Homo sapiens: one gene and its partners. The protein of the gene in region 4 interacts with the protein of the main gene of each other region in a pairwise test. Each region holds a gene or a part of one and is shown on either strand. Other genes may lie near its edges.

Region 1 (3,569 bases), on a different chromosome or scaffold from region 4:
ACATTAAGGTAAATAGTTACAGAGCAATAGCTGGAGGGTTTAATTATTTTTAGCAAGTAAGTCTCAAACTAAGAAAGGTTAAACAGATATGCAGTGGGCCAGAAACAGTGGCTCACACCTATAATCCCTGCACTTGGGAAGCCAAGGTGAGAGGATAACTTGAGGCCAGGAGTTTTGAGACCAGCCTGGGTAACATAGTGAAACCACAGTGGTCTCTAATAAAAATTGAAAACTACACACCACACGTAGTGGTGAGTGCCTGCAGGTCTAACTACTTGGGAGGCTGAGGCAGAAGGATAGCTTGAGCCCAGGAGTTCAAAGGTCCTTTGAGCTATGGTGGTACCACCGCACTCTAGTCAGAAAAAAAAGGAGGGTCAGGGGGAGAAGGGAGAGAGAAGGGAAGCAGAAATGCACAGTGAATTCTAGATCAGTGTCTCTCAAACCCTAATGTGCATGCACATCAACTGGAAATATCATGAAAATGAAGACTCTTAATTCTGTGACCCCCAGAGTAGCTCCTAAGGTTCTGCATTCTAACAAGTTCCCAGTGATGCCCATGCTGCCATCCACAGATGACATTTTGAAGAGCAAGGTTCTAGAGCATTCTCCACAATCTTTAACTCAAGCATTCAACACACTTCCTGATTTGCTTTCACATAACTAACGTAATTAAGGGACTGATAAATGTGGCAGCAGTAAGAATGGAAACGAACAAATATGAAATCACCAGGAAGAACTGACAGGGCTTACTCATAGAAAATACAGTGGCAAAGGAGAAGGTAGAGGCCAAAATGCAAGTTCTGCACCTAGGATATAAAGCATGAGGGTCCTCGTGGAGTCAGAAAACTGCAGGAGATCCATTGAATGCTTTAAATGATAGTGATACACCAAGATGAAAATGTCTGGCAGGCGATTTAGAATATAGGACTAAAGTTCAAACTGGATACATACACACATACACACACACACACACACACACACACACACACACAACCTTCTTTTTTTTTTTTTTTGAGACGGAGTCTCGCTCTGTTGCCCAGGCTGGAGTGCAGTGGCGTGATCTCGGCTCACTGCAAGCTCCACCTCCCAGGTTCATGCCATTCTCCTGCCTCAGCCTCCTGAGTAGCTGGGACTACAGGCGCCCGCCACTTCGCCCAGCTAATTTTTTGTATTTTTAGTAGAGACGGGGTTTCACCATGTTAGCCAGGATGGTCTTGATCTCCTGACCTCGTGATCCGCCCGCCTCGGCCTCCCAAAGTGCTGGGATTACAGGCATGAGCCATCACGCCCAGCCTCACACCTTCTTTTAAGATGAGAGTTGCAGTATCAAGAACAAAAAGAGCAAAAAAGCACAGTACTAAATCTTAGGGAGAAAATGAAAGGCAGTAAAAGTAGAGAATGAGGTCGTTTCAAAGAAAAGCTGTTTTCAAAAACAGGGAAAAAAAAAAGATGTTCAATAGTATCAAATATTCCAAAGAAGTCAAGAGTAATTGGGCTAAGAAAGAACATCTGGATGTGGTAACTGAGGCTGAAAAGTATTAGGTAACCTCAGAGATTAGGCAGAGCAAAAGGGAGGGAGCTCATCCACTCTGAATTCATTATCAGAAGAAGAGGGAGAAAGATAATTCACCCAATCTGAATTCCATTACCAGTTTACACTCTCGCACCATTTCAGTTTCCAACTCCAAACCTTTAACAGTTTCCTGTTTTCCTCTATATTAGATTATAGGAAATATTTATCTCCTGTAAATGTCTACACTCATAACAGCATGTGACACAGAATGTGCCACAATAGGCATCTACTCTTTTTTCATTTGTAATTAGTTCTGTCTCCTAAAGTAGATGGTAAAGTTCTCACTAGGAAGGCTCTTATATAACCTTCTGTATCACCTACAGTAAGGGAATCGACTGTATAATTTTAAAAATCTGCTAGATCTGATGACTCAGTCAAATACTCAAATGTTTTGATTCCTGAACAACTGATCTACTATTTTTAAAAATGGAAATAAATCTGAAAATTATGGCAAAAATCACTATCTTTAATATCAATTTTCCCATTCTTCCTTTAAGTAATAAAGGCTTCTGAATTTTACCTAGAAATGTGGCTGTCCTGATAGGAAGACTACATTTCTCAGCCTCTCCTGTAGAATGTAAACAGAAATGATATATTTTGCCATTAACCACACTGGGCCTGTGTTCCCCTGGCCTCTTCCCCTTTTCCATTTGCTAGGAGACAATAAGGAATGAACCTGCAACCTTGGATCCAATTACAAAAGCCCCATGGTGAAGATGACAGAACTACTCTACCCATACTGGACAGTTCATGTCCAGACCAATGTGAAGGAGAAATAAACTTCTACCCTGTTTAAGCCACTTTTTTTTTTCTTTGAGACAGGGTCTCACTCTATTGCCCAGGCTGGAGTGCAGTGGTGAAGATCTTGGCTCACTGAAATCTCTGCCTCCCAGGCTCAAGTGATCCTCCCACCTCAGCCTCACAAGTAGCTAGAACTACAGGCACATACCACCACGCCCAGCTAATTTTTGTATTTTTTGTAGAGACAGGGTTTCACCATGGTGTCCAGGCTGGTCTCAAACTTCTGGGCTCAAGCATTCCACTTGCCTCAGCCTCTCAAACTGCTGGGATTACAGGTATGAGCCACACTGCACACGGTCAGTGTGAATTACATTTGAATGTTGGTAACAGCAAACAGAACACACAATAGATTTAGCAATCCCTGATTTTAGAGCCCAAATTCTAAGACGGGTTAAAGAATAATAAAAGACTTTTTCATCAAACCTGAGTTTTCTAGATCCAATTTAAATCACCAGTTATCTATTATGTGTTTATTTTGACCGAAGTATTAAACGAAGATGACAAAACACAAATCCTGCCTTCAAGGAGCTTGAACTCTAATAATCATATAATGGTTATAGTAATAAGTACAAATGACACAGGAACATAGAAGAGGTAAAAATTAATGTCAGCCAACAATATTAATGGAGGCTTTGTAGAGACAGTGGCATTTGATGTGATTATTATGTGGGTTGGGCGCAGTGGCTCACGCCTGTAATCCCAGCACTTTGGGAGACTTAGGTGGGCAGATAACTTAAGGCCAGGAATTCAAGACCAGCCTGGCCAACATGGCCAAACTCCATCTCTACTAAAAACACAAAAATTAGCTGGGCGTGTTGGTACGTGCCTGTAGTCCCAGCTACTCAGGAGGCTGAGGTGTGAGAATCGCTTGAACCCTGGAAGGCAGAGGTTGCAGTGAGCCGAGACCCTGCCAATTCACTCCAGCCTGGGTGACAGAGGGAGACGCTGTCTTTAAAAAAAAACAAAAAACAAAAAAAGACCTCAAGTTACACAGCAGGTAAAGTCTGGACAGGGTAAAGAACAAGGTACATTCTTGGTAAAATGAACAGTGCCCCCCCCATCTTGAAGAGTTTCAGCTATACTGTAATATATAGCCAAAAAATATAACATTGCAGTACCTGATGACTGCTAAGCTTTTTATTTAAATGCTAATTTAAATTTCTACACACACACACACACACACACACACACACAC
Region 2 (3,569 bases), on a different chromosome or scaffold from region 4:
CCCTTTGTCTCCCTGCCCAGTGTCACACCCAGAGGGCGGAGCACCGCCGGACAAGCGCCCTGTGTCTGGGTCTGTTTCACCGCCAGGTCTGCGGCCGCCTGGGCGGCTCCAGCCACGGGACTCGAGGTAGGTGGATCCCAGGGCCATTCCCATCCCTTCCATCCCCCACCCCAACCTCAGCAGGGCATCCCTGACTCTCCCTCAGTGCAAAGAAGGAGAAACCTCCAAGGGAAACGCCCCAGTTCTTGGTCTCGACTCTGTACAAACTCCAAGTGGCCAGAGCCTGGGTGTTGGGGGGAAGAGCTCCAAGCTGCCTCAAATACCAGAAGCAGGGAGCTAAGGGTGTGGGAATGGCAGCAAGGGCATTCTGCATGTTGCAGGAGGGCTGCGGTGGGATCCTGGGGAGTGGGACAGAGATTACCCTGCCCTTTTTTACCCCATACTCTATCTGTAACCCGTCACCCAGGCTGGAGTGCAGTGGTGCGATCACAGCTCACTGCACCCTCGACCTCCTGGCCTCAAGCGATCCTCCCGCCTTGGCCTCTCAACACACTGGGACTACAGGCACACGCATCACCATGCCTGGCCCGGTTCACTTCTCTTTACCACCTGGATTGGCAGAACAGCCACCTCACTGGTCTCCCTGCCTCTACTTCCCCACTTCCTCTCCCTCCCAGTCCCATCTTCACACAGCCAGAGGGAGACTATTAAAAGGGCAACTCTCCAGCCTGGGCAACTCCATCTCTACAAAAAATACAAAAATTAGCTGGGTGTGGTGGTGCACACCTATAGTCCCAGCTACTCAGGAGGCTGAGGTGGGAGGATAGCTTGAACCTGGGAGGTCGAGGCTGCAGTGAGCCGTGATCACACCACCACACTCCAGCCTAGGGGACAGAATAAGACCCTGTCTCTAAATAAATAAATAAATAAATAAATAAAAATAAAGGCAAATCTGATCAAGTCATGCTCTGGGATAAAAGCTCTAAAGGCTTCACCCTTTGCTTTAGGAGAATGCTTGCCCCAGCCTGGAAGATCCGGGCCTTTCCCCTCCCCCAAGCCCTTCTCTCCCAGTCCACCCCTTCCACCTGATTCCTCCCACAGATCAACTGAGATATAAATACAACTCTCCACCTAAAAATATTACGGGTAGAAGTAACACTGAGGATGGCTAGAAATGGATATAAGAAAACTCATTATTGACTAAAATGCACAAAAGAATCAAATCTTGACCACGAATCTTTTTTTTTGGTTTTAATTTAAATCTTCCAAAATGGAATGGGGTTACCCAGTCAATCACACAATGGCAGAAACTCGTGTCAAGAGCCTGCAGCCCCCACACTGATGGATGCCTCCAATCTCAGCAGCAGAATGTGTACGGAATCGATGCCGATGAAAACAGTTTCAGTAAAATTACAAAAGAATGAAAAACATGGACATTTGTTTAACTGTACTACAGGGGAAAAACAAAAATCTGATCAAAGAATTAAGTTGGATGAATAGAGTTCAAGCTGGAGAACACCTTCTTAAAACATTTTCAGGGTTAGTATGTTTTGGTTTAAAATGTTTGCATTCAAAACATCCTTCGGGTCAAAATATCCGTAGTGGTTAAAATATCCTGTGTCCCTCTGATCTGTTTCCTATAACTCCCCACCTTCCAGCCACACTGGGCTCTTTCTGTCCCTGGAGCACAGCGAGTTTCCCCTCACTTGGGAGCTTTCTCAAAGCCTGTTCTCTCTGCCTTGAGTGCTCTTTTCCTTCTGACCCCTCCCTCCTCCTTCTCATGGCTGATATTTAACTATCACCTCTGAAAGACGCCTTCCTGCATTGCTCTCTCTAGGGTAGTTTTCCTTCCTTCCCATTTCCTCTTATTCCCTTTTTTTTTTTTTTTTTTTTTTTTTTTGAGATGGAGTCTCGTTCTGTCGCCCAGGCTGGAGTGCAATTGCGCGATCTCGGCTCACTGCAACCTCCACCTCCCAGGTTCAAGCGATTCTCCTGCTTCAGCCTCCCGAGTAGCTGGGATTACAGGCTTGCGCCATCACGCACTAATTTTTGTATTTTTAATTAGTGATGGGTTTTCACCATGTTGGCCAGGCTGGTCTCGAACTCCTGACCCCAAGTGATCCACCCACCTTGGTCTCCCAAAGTGCTGGGATTACAGACGTGAGCCACCACACCCAGCCTCTTATTCCCTCTTGAGAACCTATCTTAGGCTGGGCACGGTGGCTCACGCCTGTAATCCCAGCACTTTGGGAAGCAGAGGCGGGCGGATCACGAGGTCAGGAGATCGAGACCATGGTGAAACCCCATCTCTACTAAAAATACAAAAAATTAGCTGGGCACAGTGGTGGGCACCTGTAGTCCCAGCTACTCGGGAGGCTGAGGCAGGAGAATGGCGTGAACCCGGAAGGCGGAGCTTGCAGTGAGCCGAGATCCTGCCACTGCACTCCAGCCTGGGCGACAGAGCGAGACTCCGTCTCAAAAAAAAGAGAACCTATCTTGTTCCCTCTTGGAACCCTGTCTTGTTCCTCCTGAATTCCCAGGGCAGAGGCTAGCAAGTATAACACATAGTAGGTGCTCCATAAATATTGGTTAAATGAATGAGTAAATCAGTGTCACTGGGATGAGAGCTAGGACAGTAGGCTGGGGCTTGGGGGTAGGGGCTGGGACAGGGTAGAGACACACCCACTTATGACATCAAGTTCCAAGGAAGCCCATTTCAGTGGGAGAACAAAGAGAAGACTGGCTGCGCATGGTGGCATTACAGGCATGAGCCTGTAATCCTAGCACTTTGGGAGGCTGAGGCAGGAGGATCGCTTGAGCCCAGGAGTTTGAAACCAATCTGGGCAACAGAGGGAGACCCCTGTCTCTACAGAAAATGTAACAAAATTATCCAGGTGTGTGCCTGTAGTCCCAGCTATTCGTGAGGCTCTGGACTGAGGGCTGGGGTGGGAGGATTGCTTGGGCCTGGGAGGCGGAGGCTGCGGTGAGCTGTTATCGCACCACTGTACTCCAGCCTGGGTGGCAGAGCGAGACTTCATCTCAAACAAAAAAGAAAAGAGGATACAAAACCAGTCCTGCTCCTGATTTTTGCCCTATGCCCAGCTTCCCAAGGGTCAGGCCCATGTGCCAAATGGACAGCTCCCCCTCCACCCCTTCATCTAGGCCACCTTCTTGGGGCTTGGCTCCCACGTGTGGCTTCAGGCCAGGCTATTTGGGGAAACTTCCTGATCCCCCCTCTGGCCTCTCCACCCCCACACCTCATCTTGCAGACCCAGAATAGCTGTCCCCAGTCTCAACCTAGGGAGAGTCTCATTCCCAATTAGCACCCAGAGGGTTGAAACCATCTCTAAAAGCTTCTTGTGTCCCTCTCCCCTCAGGAAGCTGCTAACTAGGACAGCAAATTTCAGAATAAGGTCACAAGAATGCTACCTGCCCCTATATTCACCTCCCAGCCAGAGACTCAGGGACCAGGAGTCTTGGTGTGTGAAGGTAGAGGAGCTTTGGGTGAGGGGGAGATTCAGGAAGAGCCAGGGGTGACTGCAGCCTGTGACTCTTTTAATCAAAGGAGC
Region 3 (2,279 bases), on a different chromosome or scaffold from region 4:
GCTGGATGCTCTGCAGTTCGCTGGTGGCCGCCTCTTTCTCCGCGCAGAGTTTGGGCGACAAGGACATGGAGCTGGAGGAGAGCGTGGAGGAGCGGCTGTTGAGTTCAGAGCCCGAGTCCACTGCCACCGAGGCCGGGCTGGCGGCCAGGGCGGCGACTTTGCCGTCCAGGGGCCCCGCGGCCGCCGCCATGGAGGGCAGGGCGGTGGTGAGCAGACTGCTGCCGTCCGGGACCGGCACCGGGATGGAGTAGGGGCTGTAGCGCAGCCGCGGGCGCATGGTGTTCAGATTGAGGAAGGGGTGGCGGTGCACCGAGCTGGAGGCTGCCGCAGAGGAGGCGGCCGCCGCTGCGGCCATGTACGTGTAGGGGTAAGGGAACAGGCTTCCGAAAGGGGACATGGCCAGGCCCTGGGGTGAGAAAAGAGACACACAGCGAGTCAGCCGGGTGGGAGGAGCTTATCTCATCCCTCTCCTCTCTTCTCCCCCTCCAACATTGGGCAAGCCATGAATCCCTGGTATGTTCTGTTGTTGTTGTTGTTGTGTTTTTTTTTTTGGGGGGGGAGATAGGTGGGGGCAGGAGAGAAGTCAACACTCAGAAATCTCTAGGTACAAATCTTAGCTGTGTCACCCTAGGCCAAGAGACTTTGATTAACTTGTGCCTCAGCTTCCTTATAGGAAGAAAAAACAGGGAAATCATAAGTAATTCATATACTTATTGAGGACTTTGTAGATATTAAATGAGTGAAAGCCTGCAATATGCTGCACACAGTGTGTGCAGCCCCCAGGAAATCTCCTTGCACCTGTTAAATGGGGATACAGATTCAGTTTACCCCACAGAGGTAACCAAGGGGAAGCCGGAGGACATAAATTAGTAGGAATAATTTTTTAAATCTTTCTTCTTCCCCAACCCCCATCCTCCCACCCCAATCCTAGAAGTTTCTCCAAACAAAACAAAACAAAACAAAAAAAACAGACAGTGAAGATCTTAAGCAAAAGGAAACTGGGGCTGGGGGAGGGAAAAAGGGCATTTGTTATAAACAGAGACAAAGAAATCGTCCAGCATGATTCACTGGTGTTCCAGGTGAGAAGCCGAGGTAGGCCGCAGGAGTTCAGGAGTGCACTAAGCTGGGAATTGGCAGAAGCAGCATTTAAGATGCAGGCACCCTGGCCTGGGCCAGTTCTCTGCATCATGCCTTGAGGTGCCCTTAAGGTTTTGTCTGTTCAGGTAGTCCTTGGTGTACCAACCACCTGCCCACCTAGGACAGGGTCTCCCGGAGAAGCCAGCAGAGGAGATGGGAGGAATTGAGAAATGCCAGAAGCCAAGCCTTTCCTCAGCTCCCTCCTCCCTGGAGTGGGGAGGCCAATCTGGTTTCTTGGCGCAGGGAAGGGAGACCAGACGAATGTGCTCAGACAAAACAAAAGGCAACAGCATGCAAAACCTCATAGAACCTTTTCATCGAGTTCAGGGTGTTTCCAGCCGCCTGAGACCTCCCCCCAGCACAGCTGTCTGAGCCACACACAGGCCTCCAGGCCTGCCCCAGTCCCTGCTTATCCCTGTCCTCTGACATTTCCCACGTGTGCACAAACCATTAACCCTTCGAGGAATAGGCTGGCCTGCTTGGGGTTGGGGGTGGGGAGAAGAGCTTCGAACTGGGAGGAAAGGCTGGAGGAATCAAGACTGAACTCCTACTCAGGAAGTAGTCACTTCCCCTCCCCAGGCCTAGAGTCCCATTCCTGGGGAAGGGTTGGCTATGAGACACTTAAGAGACATGTCAGCTCTGAAGCTAAAATCAGAAACCCTCAAAGAGGCCCTGGAGTCAGATAGCCTGGGGTTGAGTCTCAGCTCCACCATGTACCCGCTGTGTGACCTTGGACAAGTCACTCAACATCTCTGGGCGTCTTCGCCTTCATCTGTAAAGTGGAGGTGATAATAGTACCCCTGAAGGGTTAGGTCAAATGAGTCAATACAGAGCAAGCACTTAGAAGAATGCCTGAAAGTAAGTGCTGTGTCCAGCTGTTATCTTTGTTACTACCTATCTACTCTGCTGGAAACAGCCTTTAACTTCGGAAAAATTTTAAAGATTTTTGGGGTGAATGGGGAGAATGAAGTCATAATAACTCCATGAGCTAAGCCTTGAACCCGGTAATGGCTCAGTAAAAATTATTACAGCTACTAGGCCAAAGGGATCGGGTGAGGGTCTGCTGGCAAAGGACAGGGAAACTGGACGAAAGGTGGAAAGACTGGTGGAGGCAGGAAGAAGGATCCATACCTGAGAGGCCA
Region 4 (4,298 bases):
GTTAATGGTGAAACATTCAAAATATTCCCATTAAAGCCAGGAGGAAGCCAAGGACACTGCCGTCAAATTACTGATTCCTGGTTTAGCGGTTCCAGTGAGTCATGCACTCTCCTTGCTTCCGTTAACCGCCCCCCCCCCCACCCCAACACCTTTTGTCTGATTCGTCACATGTCCTTTGATCCCCTTTTTCCTCAATCTGTTTGAAATTTTACCTTCTATTCCAATTCATTTAGTGGTTCCCAAAGGGTACCCACGTTGAGACTTAAAAATGTGTCAGTCTAGATTTTTATTGCTCTTATATTCAGCCAGTCTATCGTCTCCAGGCACTAGAGAAGCACTTTAGTAACTTCTAGCTCCTTCTGAGTTTTCGCATGTCCCACATGTCTATATGAGTGTCTTCTGGAATTTTAATTCTAGGTCATCAATCCTTTTTCCAGAATCGTACTTCTCTGGACTTAAGAATACAGTTTCCTAATTTCCATGCTTAGTGATCCTTGTTGCATCCCACTTCTTCCAGGTTGTCTGGGTTGGCTTCTTCTTGGCTGAAAAACGTGACGTGTACTTTCACTGTACATGACAGTTCCATTCCAATCGCCTTGTACAGAAAGGGTGTTTGGCAGCTTGCATGTTGTAAGTTGCGTACTCCAAGTTCAGGGGAAGCTCAGGCTTCAGGTCCAGTCGGGGGAGGAGTGGAGCAGAAGTGGGGCTGGGGGGAACGTCCAGGTGGAAGGAAGGGAGGCTGGGAACAACGTGGGTGGCAGATAGTGGTCAATACGCAATGTCGGTGAGGAACACTGGGACCCCTTGCACGTAGGTGCCCTGGGGGGTTTGAATGACTTGTAAAACCGCTGAGTCACCCAGAGCCCTAAACCCGATGCAGGGATAGAGGGTCAAGACGGGTTGCCAGTCAACAGCCTGAGGCCCAGGAGCAGCGGGCGGCTCCTGAAACCCCAGCTCAGGTTGCGCCACGTCGGGGCCAGGGCCTTCCTGCACAGTTCCAGGCGGAGGACCTGTTTCAGAAAGGGAGAAGGCTGCGGTCTCCGTGATTTCCGGTTCCCCCTGGTGGCCTGGCTCTCCATGGTGGTCCAGTTGGATGTGCACGTCCGGTGCCATCAAGCCTTCTGCCCCCTGTCTCTGGCCAGCGTCCCCGCGGGGCCCAGCCCTTCTGCCACGGCCTCGCCCTGGCCGCCGGCTTCCTCCCCGGCGCCGGCCTCTCTCTGCAGGAGGGGGTGACTCTGGGCGAGCTGGGGGCTGCCGTCTGAAGGGTTTCACGTAAGCGATGGGTTTTGCGGGTTGGGCTGGCTGTGCGGGCCCATCTGCTTCCACGGAGCCTTCAGGGTCCGCAACACAGCAGCCTGGCTCTGGAGGAGGCCCACCTGAGGCTAAAAGAGAAGCGGAGCGTGAGCAGAGAGAGACAGAAGGAACTTCACCCGTCAAGCAGTTATAGGATACTTTTACAAATAAATACTCAGAGAAAAGAGGGATTTCTGAAGTTAAAATTGTGAGAGAAGAAACAAAACTCTCCACGGAAGTTGGAGAAAGAAGTTGAGAAGGTCTCCCACAGAACAAAGCAAAAACCTAAAATGATGGAAAGAAGGATGAAATATAAGAGAATTAGAGGTATGCTGTGGCTGAGACATTTCACCAGAAAATTTCAGAGTGCTGAGGAAAAAGAGAAGATTCTAACAGATTCTAGAGAGCGGGAGACAGAGAAAGGAAAAGTCACATGGAAAGGGCTAGGATTCCACATGTCTCAAAAGTCAGACATCTCAAAAGCAGCAGTTCAGTCTAGAACATAACAGAAAATGTCTTCGAAATTTCAAGGGAAATGAATTTCCCACCTAAAATTTCCTGTCCAACCGAAGTTTCGCTGAAGAATCTGGGAGGGGAGAATGAAGATGTTTCAGACAAGCAAGATGTTAAAGAATTTCCTTTCAGTGGATGCTTTATTGTTATGCATCTGTCAAACTAGACAAGATTAAAAGATTTAGGACACTCAGCGTATGAAGGGAAAAGTTTTGGAGAACAACGTGGCAACAGCCGGAAAATTCCAACTCCTCCGGGAAAGAACAAGGTGGAAGTACCGGTTTATCATAGATCAAGACGTAGCGTGAGGACTCGCTCTGCTACGGAGAAACAGTAATACAAAACTAAACAGAAGGAAACAGCGACAACAACAGCAAATCTCAGATTTGGGAAATGGGATTACGGTTCGGAAGAGGGAAAGGAATTTCCCAGATGATGTGGAACCCGGGAGCTGACTTCCAACAAGCAGCCCAGGTTGAGGCAGGCTAGGAGAAGGTGAAACAGAGAATGCTTGATTGAGTTTGAGTGTCAACCATTGGGGAAGAATTGGGGAACAGACGAAATTAAAAAGAGAGGAGTGGCAGGCGTTTGATGTACCTTGATTAGGGGCCATGGAGCGAAGTCGCTTCGAAGGCCTTGGTTCCTCCATGAGCAATCGGCGGGAGGGGCTGGGGAGAAAAACAAGAGAGCAAGAACGGATTTAGGAAGACAGAGGTGACAAGGCAGGGGGATGGCCGTGGCCTTTCTAGGGGAATGAGGATTCTGTCCCCAACTGCACCCACCCGAGATCCGTCCACGCCTCCGGGACCCCCAGACACACACCTGATCTTCCCACAGCTGGCTCCGGAGATCTGAAAATTAGGAGACTCTTCGACGAAGAGAGGCCCGAGGAGTCGGAGGTGTCCACAGGTTCACCGCTGTAGCTCTGAGGTAGTCCACCCGCAGCCAGGGAGTCTGGAGGGAGCACGCAGCAGGTTCTGGCTCCGAGCCCAGCAGAAAGCCGACTGCTGGAGGCCGAGCGCCGTCCCTCTTATATGGCAGCAAGGCAGTCGCGTAAGGGACAGGCGTCGTCAGAGGGGGGCCGGCTGGGGCGGGCCTGGCTGGGCTTGCGAGGCGCATTGGGCCAGTCCCCTGCCAGTCAAATGGGGGCCCTTCTGAGATGCCGCCATTTCTAGACGTCCGTGGTTGATTGATTAATCTAATCATCGAGGAAAAAAAATTGCATAATGACCTCTGAGTGTCAGCACAATGAGGTGTGGTGCCCTGAAAGCGGCTGACAGGAAGATGCGATTAGCTTAGATCTGAGCATGGTCAAGGAAAGCATCCAAAGCGGGGATATCTGGGCTGAAATCTGGAACATAACGTTTGAAATTAGTCATCCTGAACCGGGTTGGGAGAGGCAGGGAGGGAGGAAGGGGAGTGAAGAGAGTGTGCTGAGGCCCGGACTGGAAGGGAGCCCGGCACATTCTGGGAATGGACGGGAGGCCAAGTCCAGGCCCGGAGGTGGTGCGAGGTGGAGGCAGGGTCCGCGCAGGAGCTGGTCTTGTTCCAAGGCAGCGGAAAACCGTGGAACGGTGTCCGGCAGCGGGTTAACATTTCAGAAACGACCAGCCTGGCTGTGAAGGAGCGCCAACCCAGGGTCCGCAGAATAAGTCAGGAGAGGCAAGAAGGCTATTGCAGCCCTCGGGGTTGGGCGCAGGGTGCTGTTAGACTGAGACTCAGGGAGGTAGAGGAGGAGAAAGTTCCCTGGTGGGAGAGAAATTTCCAAGAGAAAGCGAGACCCAGTGTGGACAGCCCTTGAGGAAGAGACTGCGGCCTTGGTAGCCCGCCGGTTCATTCAGGCAGAGGTGGACCGAGAACCTGCTCTGAACGGGAAGTTGCGGAGCTTGGCTTGCGCACATCTGGTTGAAGGGGCTTTTGAACTGCCAAGTGAGGATGTCAAGTGGCCTTTTGTAAAAAGAGTCGAGCTCAGCGCGATGGCGACGGGGCTGGAGATGCGTGTGAGACCCACACCGCTGGCTTTTATTGCTGTGGGTGCACTCACGGGTGGAGGAAGACAGCGGGAAACACAGCAGGACGCTGGAGGGGATCCCACAGTGGGTTATTTGGTTGGTTTGCATCCTTGTGTCTTTTACAGAGACGGGTTCTCGCTCTGTAGCCCAGGCTGGAGTGCAGCGGTGCCATCTCGGCTCGCTGCGGCTACTTGGGGGGGGGGGGGGGGGGGGGGGGGGGCTGAGATAGGAGAATCAGTTCAAGTGATTCTCCTGTCTCGGCCTCCGGAGTAGCTGGACTACAGGTGAGCGCCACCACATCGGGATAATTTTCGGATTTTTTTGGAGAGACGAGGTTTCGCTATGTGCCCAGGCTTGTTTGGAAGGCCTGAGCTCAAGCCGTCCGTCCCGCTCAACCTCCCGAGTCGCTGGGACCCCAGGCGCAAGCCACCATGCCGGGCCAATTATTTTTTTGGGTTGTATTTCCTGTTGAAGTGAGGT

Evidence for each region.
Region 1: the proteins of PRR20D (region 4) and SMAP1 interact in a two-hybrid assay, tested with the Homo sapiens proteins (one large-scale study listed by BioGRID).
Region 2: the proteins of PRR20D (region 4) and ZNF385C interact in a two-hybrid assay, tested with the Homo sapiens proteins (one large-scale study listed by BioGRID).
Region 3: the proteins of PRR20D (region 4) and TBX3 interact in a two-hybrid assay, tested with the Homo sapiens proteins (one large-scale study listed by BioGRID).

Annotation. Positions count from the first base shown.
Region 1 is NC_000006.12:70,726,883-70,730,451, reverse strand, and holds part of SMAP1 (stromal membrane-associated protein 1), read right to left. Parts: intron 1-3,569. UniProt on the Homo sapiens protein: GTPase activating protein that acts on ARF6. Plays a role in clathrin-dependent endocytosis. May play a role in erythropoiesis.
Region 2 is NC_000017.11:42,088,405-42,091,973, forward strand, and holds part of ZNF385C (zinc finger protein 385C), read right to left. Parts: intron 1-3,569.
Region 3 is NC_000012.12:114,671,897-114,674,175, forward strand, and holds part of TBX3 (T-box transcription factor TBX3), read right to left. Parts: coding exon 2,269-2,279; intron 407-2,268; coding exon 1-406.
Region 4 is NC_000013.11:57,159,176-57,163,473, reverse strand, and holds the start of PRR20D (proline-rich protein 20D), read right to left. Parts: upstream 2,843-4,298; 5' UTR 2,629-2,842; intron 2,475-2,628; 5' UTR 2,456-2,474; coding exon 2,404-2,455; intron 1,383-2,403; coding exon 769-1,382; 3' UTR 1-768.